Linked DNA regions of Homo sapiens. The protein of the gene in region 1 purifies or fractionates together with the protein of each later gene. This does not show direct contact. Each region holds a gene or a part of one and is shown in the gene's direction. Other genes may lie near its edges.

What was found. Proteins that work in one complex are often made in the same cells at the same time.
Region 2: the proteins of SOAT1 (region 1) and SLC25A3 purify together in Homo sapiens (affinity purification with mass spectrometry, with the first as the bait; one large-scale study listed by BioGRID). This does not show direct contact.

Annotation. Positions count from the first base shown.
Region 1 is NC_000001.11:179,344,777-179,350,345, forward strand, and holds part of SOAT1 (sterol O-acyltransferase 1), read left to right. Parts: intron 1-170; coding exon 171-300; intron 301-2,823; coding exon 2,824-2,921; intron 2,922-4,067; coding exon 4,068-4,166; intron 4,167-5,519; coding exon 5,520-5,569.
Region 2 is NC_000012.12:98,599,152-98,603,685, forward strand, and holds part of SLC25A3 (solute carrier family 25 member 3 isoform b precursor), read left to right. Parts: intron 1-483; exon of another isoform or gene 484-733; intron 734-803; coding exon 804-976; intron 977-2,019; coding exon 2,020-2,130; intron 2,131-2,216; coding exon 2,217-2,377; 3' UTR 2,378-4,534. UniProt on the Homo sapiens protein: Inorganic ion transporter that transports phosphate or copper ions across the mitochondrial inner membrane into the matrix compartment. Mediates proton-coupled symport of phosphate ions necessary for mitochondrial oxidative phosphorylation of ADP to ATP.

The DNA of each region.
Region 1 (5,569 bases):
TGAGTAATCTCCCTGAAGGATTATAGCAGTCTTCTATACTAGTGTTAAATGGAATACATATGCGAACATTACTGTAAGGGTCACATCTGTACTTTCTTTTGGAGAGAAAAAAATCGCCTTCCATCTTATTAAGCCATCGTTATTATAATTCTGTCTCTGTTATGTTCCAGGTCTTTGGTTGCTTTTTCTATGTGTACTACATCTTTGAAAGGCTTTGTGCCCCCTTGTTTCGGAATATCAAACAGGAGCCCTTCAGCGCTCGTGTTCTGGTCCTATGTGTATTTAACTCCATCTTGCCAGGTAACATGGGTACTTGTTAATTTGGTCATGCATAAATTCACGAGGTAAATAGAAAGCTATTGCCTATGAGCACCTTTGCTTTGCCTACTTTTTCATCTAAACTTCTATACATCTATGCCCATCTTGACCTCTTTTGCATCTACTTTATAAATGAAGTATCCTTCATCCAGTCTCAGGTCAGTCTTTCATCTTATGGCTTTCACTCAAGTTGTGCCTTTCTCTGACAGTGGACAGTCCACATTCATGCTGTGTCTTCCTGTTCGCTATTAAGTTCATTGTAATCTTGCTCCTGATTCCACCAAGCCACTTAAATGCCCCTTGTTGAAATTACTAGTAACTTGTAGAAATTACTTGTAGAAATTACTAGTAATCCATATTCTAATCCAGTGGATGGATTAAGATGTACTTTACCCCTTATCCAAGTTGACCTCCATGAAGCATTGGGTGCTGCTGACCACATTTTTAAATCTCTCTTGTCACTGTTTTCTTGCCTTTTTTTTTTTTGAAATCGGGTCTCTCTTTGTCACCCAGTCTGAATGCAGTGGTGTCATCATGGCTTACTAGCCTCGACCTCTGGGGCTCGAGTGATCCTCTCGCCTCAGTAGCTGGGACTACAGGTGCATGCCACCATGCCTGGCTAAGTTTTTATTTTTTGGAGAGACGGGGTCTCCCTATGTTGCCCAGGCCATTCTCAAACTCCTGGGCTCAAGTTATCCTCCTGTCTCAGCCTCTCAAAGTGCTGGGGTTACAGGCTTGAGCCACCATGCTTGGCCTTTTGCCACTATTTCTTATTTTCCTCCTGTCTTTCCGACCATACCTTGATTTCTTAAATATATTTATTGCATTTTTTTGTCTATTATAGAGATATATGAGTACCTAGTACTATGCCAGGTGCAGAGGACTCAGAAGTGAACAAGAGATGTATTATCTTTACAGTCTGGGAGCTTTTATAGTTTCCCTTACTTTTCCTCTTTTCTTTACTCATTGAATGTTGGTAATGTTTTCTGTCATCACCTTCCCTTTCTTTTCTTCTCTTGCATTCCTCTTCCAGTAACCCTCCCTCACCAGCCCCAGGACTTATTTGAATGAACTCTGTATCTGTCCCTAAAATAGAATATGTGTTACATACTTGAGTGTCTTCCTCACTAGCTGCAAAGTTATTGAGTTCAAGGATTGTGTTTTATAGCCAATCACAGTCTCTCTCATATTGTCTGGTACATAGTTGATGCTCTATAAATATATATTTTTCAATAAATGAGTGAAAGAGATGGACATATAAATGGATATTTTACAATATATTGTAATATGTACTACATAAGTAGGATAAACAAAATGCTTATGGCCTTTGTTTCACATTAGAGATAACATTTAATATTGGGTATTGAAAAATAGGTAGGTATTTGCCTGGCAGAGAATTGGTGGAAAGGTCATTCTAGGTAGTGGGATGGATGCAAGGGCATGGAGCATTCTGGAATGGCATAAACCCAGTTGTGGATAATGTTTACAACACTTAGAGGGTAGAATCACTGGAGATATGTTTAGAATGTTATCCATGTCACTATGTTAACCATGTCACTATTAACATTTTGGACTGGTTAATTCTTTGTTTGGAGTGGCATTCTTCTGCATTGTAGCATAAACTGTTCAGCAGCATCCTGGCCTCTAACAACTAGATACCAGTGGCACCACTCCCTCTCCTCCAATTGTCACAGCACTGGTGCAGTAGCTTGCACCGGTAGTCCCAGCTATTCTGGAGGCTGAGGTGGGAGGATCACTTGAGCCCCAGGAGTTGAAGTTCAGCCTGGGCAACATAGTGAAACCCTGTCTTTTAAAAACAAAAAGTCTCTAGAATTTCAAATGTCCTGTGGGGGAGAGGGGGCAAAATCTCTCCCAGTTTTAAACAATTGTTTAAGAGGGGGGTATGGGGGCCAGATTTTTAAAGGACCTTGGGTACTAAGTTAAGCCATATATTTAGGCATTTCTTAAAAACAGACTGGGTAGGCTGGGCGCGATGGCTCACGCCTGTAATCCTAGCACTTCGGGAGGCTGAGGTGGGCAGATCACAAGGTCAGGAGATTGAGACCTGCCTGGCCAACATGGTGAAACCCGGTCTCTACTAAAAATACAAAAAATTAGCCAGATGTGGTGGTACATGCCTGTAGTTCCAGCTACTTGGGAGGCTGAGGCAGGAGAATTGCTTGAACCCTGGAGGCAGAGGTTGCAGTGAGCCGAGATCGCGCCACTGCACTCCAGCCTGGGTGACAGAGCAGGACTCTGTCTCAAAAAAGAAAAAAAAAAACCAGACTGGGTAATGTCATTTGTTGAACCCACTTTGAAGGAAGTTACTGTTTTAAAATTAAGATAATTAACTCCAAAAGTATATCATCTCTGGAATGGGTAAACTGGAATAATAACTTATATTTTACAAAATAATCCCAGCTAAATAAAATGATGTGATATAATTAGTTGCTTGGTATGTGAGCTATTTGGAAAGACTGTTAATATTGTTAATCTTATTTTTAGGTGTGCTGATTCTCTTCCTTACTTTTTTTGCCTTTTTGCACTGCTGGCTCAATGCCTTTGCTGAGATGTTACGCTTTGGTGACAGGATGTTCTATAAGGTAGTATATACTTAGACTTAGCTTTCTTTTTACATTTTATTAACTTCTTCATTATTAGTATTTTGACATTGTTGGCTAATGTCACCAGCCTTTCACACAAACATTGTGAAATAATTTTCTTTTCTACAAGTTTTGCCAGTATTTTCTGAAATTCGGTTACAGATATAACTAGCATAACCTTGTGTTTTCTTCTGTCTCTAATATCTGCTCCCTTAACATAAGCACATGGTTTCTGCTGGATCCTGCAAGGATATATTGGTGATTCCAGTAGGAAACTGTTTGTTCAGAGCACACCATGAGACTTCCCTGAGTGTTCATTCATTTGAAATGGACCGTCTAGTTCTGTAGGAATGACCTCAGCAAATTATTCCATTTAAGACAATTGAGCAGTTCATGAGGGAAATAACTTTTCCCTCTTTAGTTTTGAAAGGTGTTAATTTTGCTTCAGATAGTATCCTTATGCTTCTAAAGTTGGAATTAAGCTATAGAATTAGAGTCAGAATGGCTCATAGCATTCTTTAACCCTACCTAAAGCTCTCTTTGAGTTGTTTTTGGCAACACTCCAAGTCTACCACCTTTTTTCTCAAAGAAACTTTAAGTGTGGATTGCAGATTTTAGATACCTGATTTCATTCATCTGATCTTAATATTGGGAGCAAGAAGCATATATAGGGATACCAGGACTTTGAGGTAGCCACCATCTCACCCTGGATAATTTTGCCATTTATGGTAACCACCAAACAGCTCTCTAGTGTTAGCACTCTCTCTGGTCTTCATGACCATAGAATTTTCTCATGACATTCTAGTAGGGTAAGGGGGGTGGGGCTTACTGATTGCTGTTTAGATGAACATTAGATTTAAATGATTCTATGTGTTCCGTATGAACCTAGGAACTAAATCATATATAGTATGAGAATTCATGTCATATTCAACACTAATAACCAAAATGCCTTTGAAGATTTTTCTGTCACCAGTGTATGAACCAACAGTTTATCACAGTATAATTTGATTTTTCTGTTACATATGTTCTTTGGGAAGTCAGGGGGGTTTGCTTTCGGGTGGGATGTGTGTGTGTGTGTGTGTGTGTGTGTGTGTGTGTGTGTGTGTGTGTGTGTGTGTAGTTTTATACCTTTACTTTTTCCCTCAGGATTGGTGGAACTCCACGTCATACTCCAACTATTATAGAACCTGGAATGTGGTGGTCCATGACTGGCTATATTACTATGCTTACAAGGACTTTCTCTGGGTAAGTAGCAAGGTTTAAGTTGATATTATTTATGAAATGGAGATTCTTTTTCAGAAAGTATGAGTATTATACAGCTGGAAGAAGTTATATTTAATTGCTCATGAGGAAAGGGTGATAGTATCTTTTCAGTTTTCTTTTGAGAAATTTACATCTAGAAACCTGCTTTGAATGGTACTGCTTAGAAACCACTGTGTGTACACTAGTAGGTCTAATACTGTGTCTTTTGCTCTGAATTTTATCTTACATAACAAAGTAAGAATGCATGGAGGTTGTTGGAGTTGAAATGATCCACCAATAATGGATAGTTTCTTATGAGTCTTGTTGCCAACAAATAATCTCCCTTTGGTCTTTTTCATTCGTTTTTCATGGTTAAAGGTAGAGAAACACTTTTTTTTTTTTTTTTTGAGAGAGTTTCGCTCTTGTTGCCCAGGCTGGAGTGCAGTGGCATGTTGTCGGCTCACTGCAACCTCCTCCTCCCGGGTTCAAGCGATTCTCCTGCCTCAGCCTCCCAAGTAGCTGGGATTACAGGCATGCACCACCACGCCCAGCTAATTTTCTATTTTTAGTAGAGATGGTGTTTCTCCATGTTGGTCAGGCTCATCTTGAACTCCCGACCTTAGGTGATCCGCCCGCCTCAGCCTCCCAAAGTGCTGGGATTACAAGCATGAGCCACCGTGCCCGGGTGAGAAACACTTTTCTGTGAGAAACACTTTTGTGTGGATTTTGTATCTCTCCAATCAGTGACACCTGGCTTTGAGACATTCTTTAGAGCAGAATATACTTAGACTGATGAGATGTAATCTTGAATCTCCTGGTTGATAAACAGGTATCTAGATTACAGTTTTTATTAAGTGAGGGCACCATTTGGCTTAGTGACAGCATCTTATGGTGGAAATAGCATTGTATTAATATTTGAGTGCTAATTCTGTCATTCAAGTGTAGTTTCACATACGGATAAGGCAAGTCCCTTTTCTCCTTCTGAAATCTTAGTTTTGTTATGTGTAAAAATGGAGAGGACAGTTGCCCCATCTACCATACAGTGTTACTCTAAAGACTGAAATTCAATATGTTTCATTTATATAGGAAAACTATGTTTTGTCAGTTGTAATAACTTACAAACATAAGTTATTGATATTTTTGAAAATAGACTCAGATATTTGAACAATAATAAGAGTTTGTAAGTGTATATGATTTGTAGTTATTTTAATAGACTTGGATTAATCCAAGGAGTAGACTTAGAAAATTAAGTACAAATACAATAGGTGCCTTTGGCATATAATTTTACATCCTATATAATCCATGCTTGCTTTAAATTTTTAAAAATTACTTTGTAGTGTTTTCCTTTTTCTTTAGTTTTTCTCCAAGAGATTCAAATCTGCTGCCATGTTAGCTGTCTTTGCTGT
Region 2 (4,534 bases), on another chromosome or scaffold:
CCCAGGTTCAAGTGATTGTCCTGCCTCAGCCTGCTGAATAGCTGGGATTACAGGCATGCACCACCACGCCTGGCTAATTTTGTATTTTTAGTAGAGACTCCATGTTGGTCAGGCTGGTCTCGAACTCCTGACCTCAGGTGATCCACCCGCCTCGGCCTCCCAAAGTGCTGGGATTACAGGCGTGAGACACCGCGTCTGGCTGTGAACTTCATTTTTTAGTATTAAGCCTACCAGACTTTTTAAAAAGACTATTATAACATTTAATGTCTATTTACCTGTATGTAGAACATAAACTTGAGAGGTAAAGATAAGTTAATACATGGTTTGAGCCCTGGACTGAGTTTTTTTTTTTTCCCTAGAGTAAGGACCATTTGTCGGTCTACAAATGACTTGATGTTTGGCCTAAACATTTACTATTAACTTTTAGGGAGGGCTTGTTAGTATCCTTGTGATCTATTCACAGTTAAGAATTTCCATGACCACAACATGCTTCCTTAGATCCACCTTTGTGGATGAATCTTGAACTGAGTTCCACTTGTAAACTTCTTGTTTCTTGTGGTTCCAGTAGTCAAAGAAACATCCAGCAACTTTTTTGGTTGTATAGTCAAAGGTGCTTGAGTCATTGGCATGTAAGAGAAATATACCTGCATGTTAGTCTAACGTTCTGATAGAAATGACATGCATTTATGCTGCCATTTGTTACTATCAGGACTCGACTCGTGTGCGGACATTTCTGTTAATAATGACAGTCTCTGATAGATGAGTGTATGCAACTGTGTAAAACAAGTCTCTTGATTTCCTAGATTCTACAAGGGGGTTGCTCCTCTCTGGATGAGACAGATACCATACACCATGATGAAGTTCGCCTGCTTTGAACGTACTGTTGAAGCACTGTACAAGTTTGTGGTTCCTAAGCCCCGCAGTGAATGTTCAAAGCCAGAGCAGCTGGTTGTAACATTTGTAGCAGGTTACATAGGTACGAATTACTTAGAACACACTTGTCTGAAATTATGAACAAATAATCATTTCCATTATTGGCGTTTTTTGAGAGGGAAAAATACTCCAAAGGTTATAAAGCAGTGTTTTTGTTTTTTTGGTTTCCCTGAGGCATAGTCTCGCTCTGTTGCCCAGGCTGGAGTGCAGTGGCATGATAATAGCTCACTGCAACCTCCTCCTCCTGGGTTCAAGTGATTCTTCTGCCGCAGCCTCCCAAGTAGCTGGGACGGGCATGCACCGCCATGCCCGGCTGATTTTTGTTTTTGTTTTTTGTTTTTTTTTGAGATGGAGTTTTACCCTTGTTGCCCAGGCTGGAGTGCAGTGGTGCAATCTTGGCTCACTGCAGCCTCCGCCTCCTGGGTTCAAGCGATTCTCCTGTCTCAGCCTCCTGAGTAGCTGGGATTGCAGGCGTCTGCCACTACGCCCGGCTAATTTTTAGTATTTTTAGTAGAGACGGTTTCACTATGTTGGCCAGGCTGGTCTCAAACTCCTGGCCCCAGGTGATCTGCCTGCCTTGGCCTCCCAAAGTGCTGGGATTACAGGCGTGAGCCACCGCGCCTGGCCTGATTTTTGTAAAGATGGGGTTTCACCATGTTGATGAGTCTGGTCTCAAACTCCTGACCTCAGGTGATGTGCCTGGCCTATAAAGCAGTTTTATCTTCCCATAACATTTTATATGCTTTTTAGGATTCATAAATACTTGCTAACTAGTTCCTAAAAGGGCTGTTTCATGGGATGTCATTATTAGGCTTGGGAATGTATTGATCTTACTGTTGCACCATTTTTTTGTTGTTGTTTATTAAGAATTTTATACAGAAAGTGTTGAATAAAATCTGAAAAACTTTAAAAGATTGTTCCGTTTTACATAGGATAGACAGCTTGATAACTGTACCCGTGTCACCCTGAGTCTGATTTTTATTTTAGAACTAGAAAAATATTATTTTAAAATCATAAAAATGATTATTGGCTCTGTGAAGTTTTGTTTTTAACTGGCACTGTATGGGATCCTTTATCTTTTTTCAGCTGGAGTCTTTTGTGCAATTGTTTCTCACCCTGCTGATTCTGTGGTATCTGTGTTGAATAAAGAAAAAGGTAGCAGTGCTTCTCTGGTCCTCAAGAGACTTGGATTTAAAGGTAGGATGATGTTTTTTTCTTGAAAGAAAGAACAACAGTTTTGGATATGTTGCATTTTTTTCATTTGCTTTTCCTGTTTGAACCAGGTGTATGGAAGGGACTGTTTGCCCGTATCATCATGATTGGTACCCTGACTGCACTACAGTGGTTTATCTATGACTCCGTGAAGGTCTACTTCAGACTTCCTCGCCCTCCTCCACCCGAGATGCCAGAGTCTCTGAAGAAGAAGCTTGGGTTAACTCAGTAGTTAGATCAAAGCAAATGTGGACTGAATCTGCTTGTTGATCAGTGTTGAAGAAAGTGCAAAAGGAACTTTTATATATTTGACAGTGTAGGAAATTGTCTATTCCTGATATAATTACTGTAGTACTCTTGCTTAAGGCAAGAGTTTCAGATTTACTGTTGAAATAAACCCAACTCTTCATGATTTGCCTGTGACTTATTTTTAAAACTTTTTTAAAAAAGATTTAGCTTTAAAATAGTTGGAAAGAATGAAGTATATAAGTTAAGGAAAAAATACAAAACTGACCATGACCATTGTTGGTTGAATATTCCAGTTGCTATTCAGAAATTGTCATATGTCTCAAGTTTTATCACACAAAGTTCCTGTATTTCTAGGGAAGCAGACTTTAAATTTCTAAAAACTTGATTTAATTATAGTTAAATATGTGTAGTCATTTGTGGTTATTTTGGCAAGTAAATGTCAGTGTATACTTACATTTTTGCAGCATGTACTACACCTTTTTTATGTTGGTGAGTTTGCTAATCCTTATTTGTAAGACAAGGTAAACCAAATTAGGCTGATTCTTAGAATGACAGTAAAGGACCAAAGTGATTGACAGCTGAAAACAATTTTCAGGTACACTAATTCTCTTTACACAGATCTGACTTTTTTTTTTTTTGAGACGGAGTTTCACTCTTGTTGCCCAGACGAGTGTAGTGTCGCGATCTCGCCTCACGGCAACCTCTGCCTCCCAGGTTCAAGCGATTGTTCTGCCTCAGCCTCCCAAGTAGCTGGGATTTCAGGCATGTGCCACCACGCCCAGCTAATTTTGTATTTTTAGTAGAGACGGGGTTTCCCTGTGTTGGTCAGGCTGGTCTCGAACTTCCAACCTCAGGTGATCCGCCCGCCTCAGCCTCCCAAACTGCTGGGATTATAGGCATGAGCCACCGTGCCCGGCTCTGACTTTTTACAGAAAATTGAACTATTTTCAGTCTGGTATTTTAAGAAAGGTACTGCTTGACAGCTGAACTATATGAATGCCACTGGGGAAAAAGCATTCCATCATACTTAGATACGAGATTGGATTGTAGGTTTAAGCCCATTTTTAAAGAGCTCCTAGAAAGTGAATTAGTTTTTGTGTTTAGATTCCCCTTAAGTTTGATTAGGAAGTGTATAAAAGTTCAATCTTTTGTAATGACAGCCCACCACTGGAAAAAAAACGAAAAACCTAGTGTAATATATAACATGCTGTTTTTCAAACACTAGATTTTACCTAGAGTCCTTATGTGTAATACGTGGGTTGGTTAACAGTCCCTACGTAAAGCGTACAGATGGCCTGGAGAGAAAAACTTTTTCAGAGATTGGAGAGAAATGTTACTACAAACTCATGGTAAGGTCAGTGAACTCAATTTAGAAGCCAGTGCAGCTAGTTGCATGTTAACTTCTTTATATCATCATTGCCTGAACTTGTTAAAGGTTCCAACATTTTACCTGTGCTGCAGGAAAAAAGGAAAAGTTGTAGGTACAAATTTGGACCAAACTTTAAAAAGGTAAAGTAGGATGTCTTCTGAACCCAACCAAGTGGTGGCTGTGGTGCTTAGCAGTATCAACTGTATATTATTTCTTGCTATGTTAGCAAAGCATCCAAAGATCAATGGTGTATGATAAGCTTTTCTGTGGGTGAAGAACTCGGGAGTATCAGACTCTTCTGGTTCTGAGTCTCATGAAGCTTTTCACTTCTGAGCTGAAAGGATGCTCTTTGTGCTTTTCACTATTAGTGGTATAGTCTTTCCCGAAAATCTCTAGCATGGTGGCTTCAGGGCAGCTGGACTTAGGTGGTATTTTGGGGCTCCAGGAGAGCTTGGCAGAGTTGGCTTTTTAGGACTTATCCTTCAATGTCACATAACATCACTTTTACCATGCTCTTGGTTACAACAGTGATGTCTCAGAAACCAAGTCCCAGATTGAGGAAAAAAGGAACATAGTCTCTACCTCTTCCTGAGAGGAAAGTCAGTCAACGTGTAAGAGGAGCAGTAGAAACGCATTAGTCCAGCCAACGTGAAAGTGGACCGTAGATCTAAAACATTTTGGGTATGCAGTTCAGCCAGCCCTTACTGAGGCAGTTCTGCCAATCAGGATTCAAGTTTTATTTCCTAAGAGTTATAATAGGTTTTATTTGTG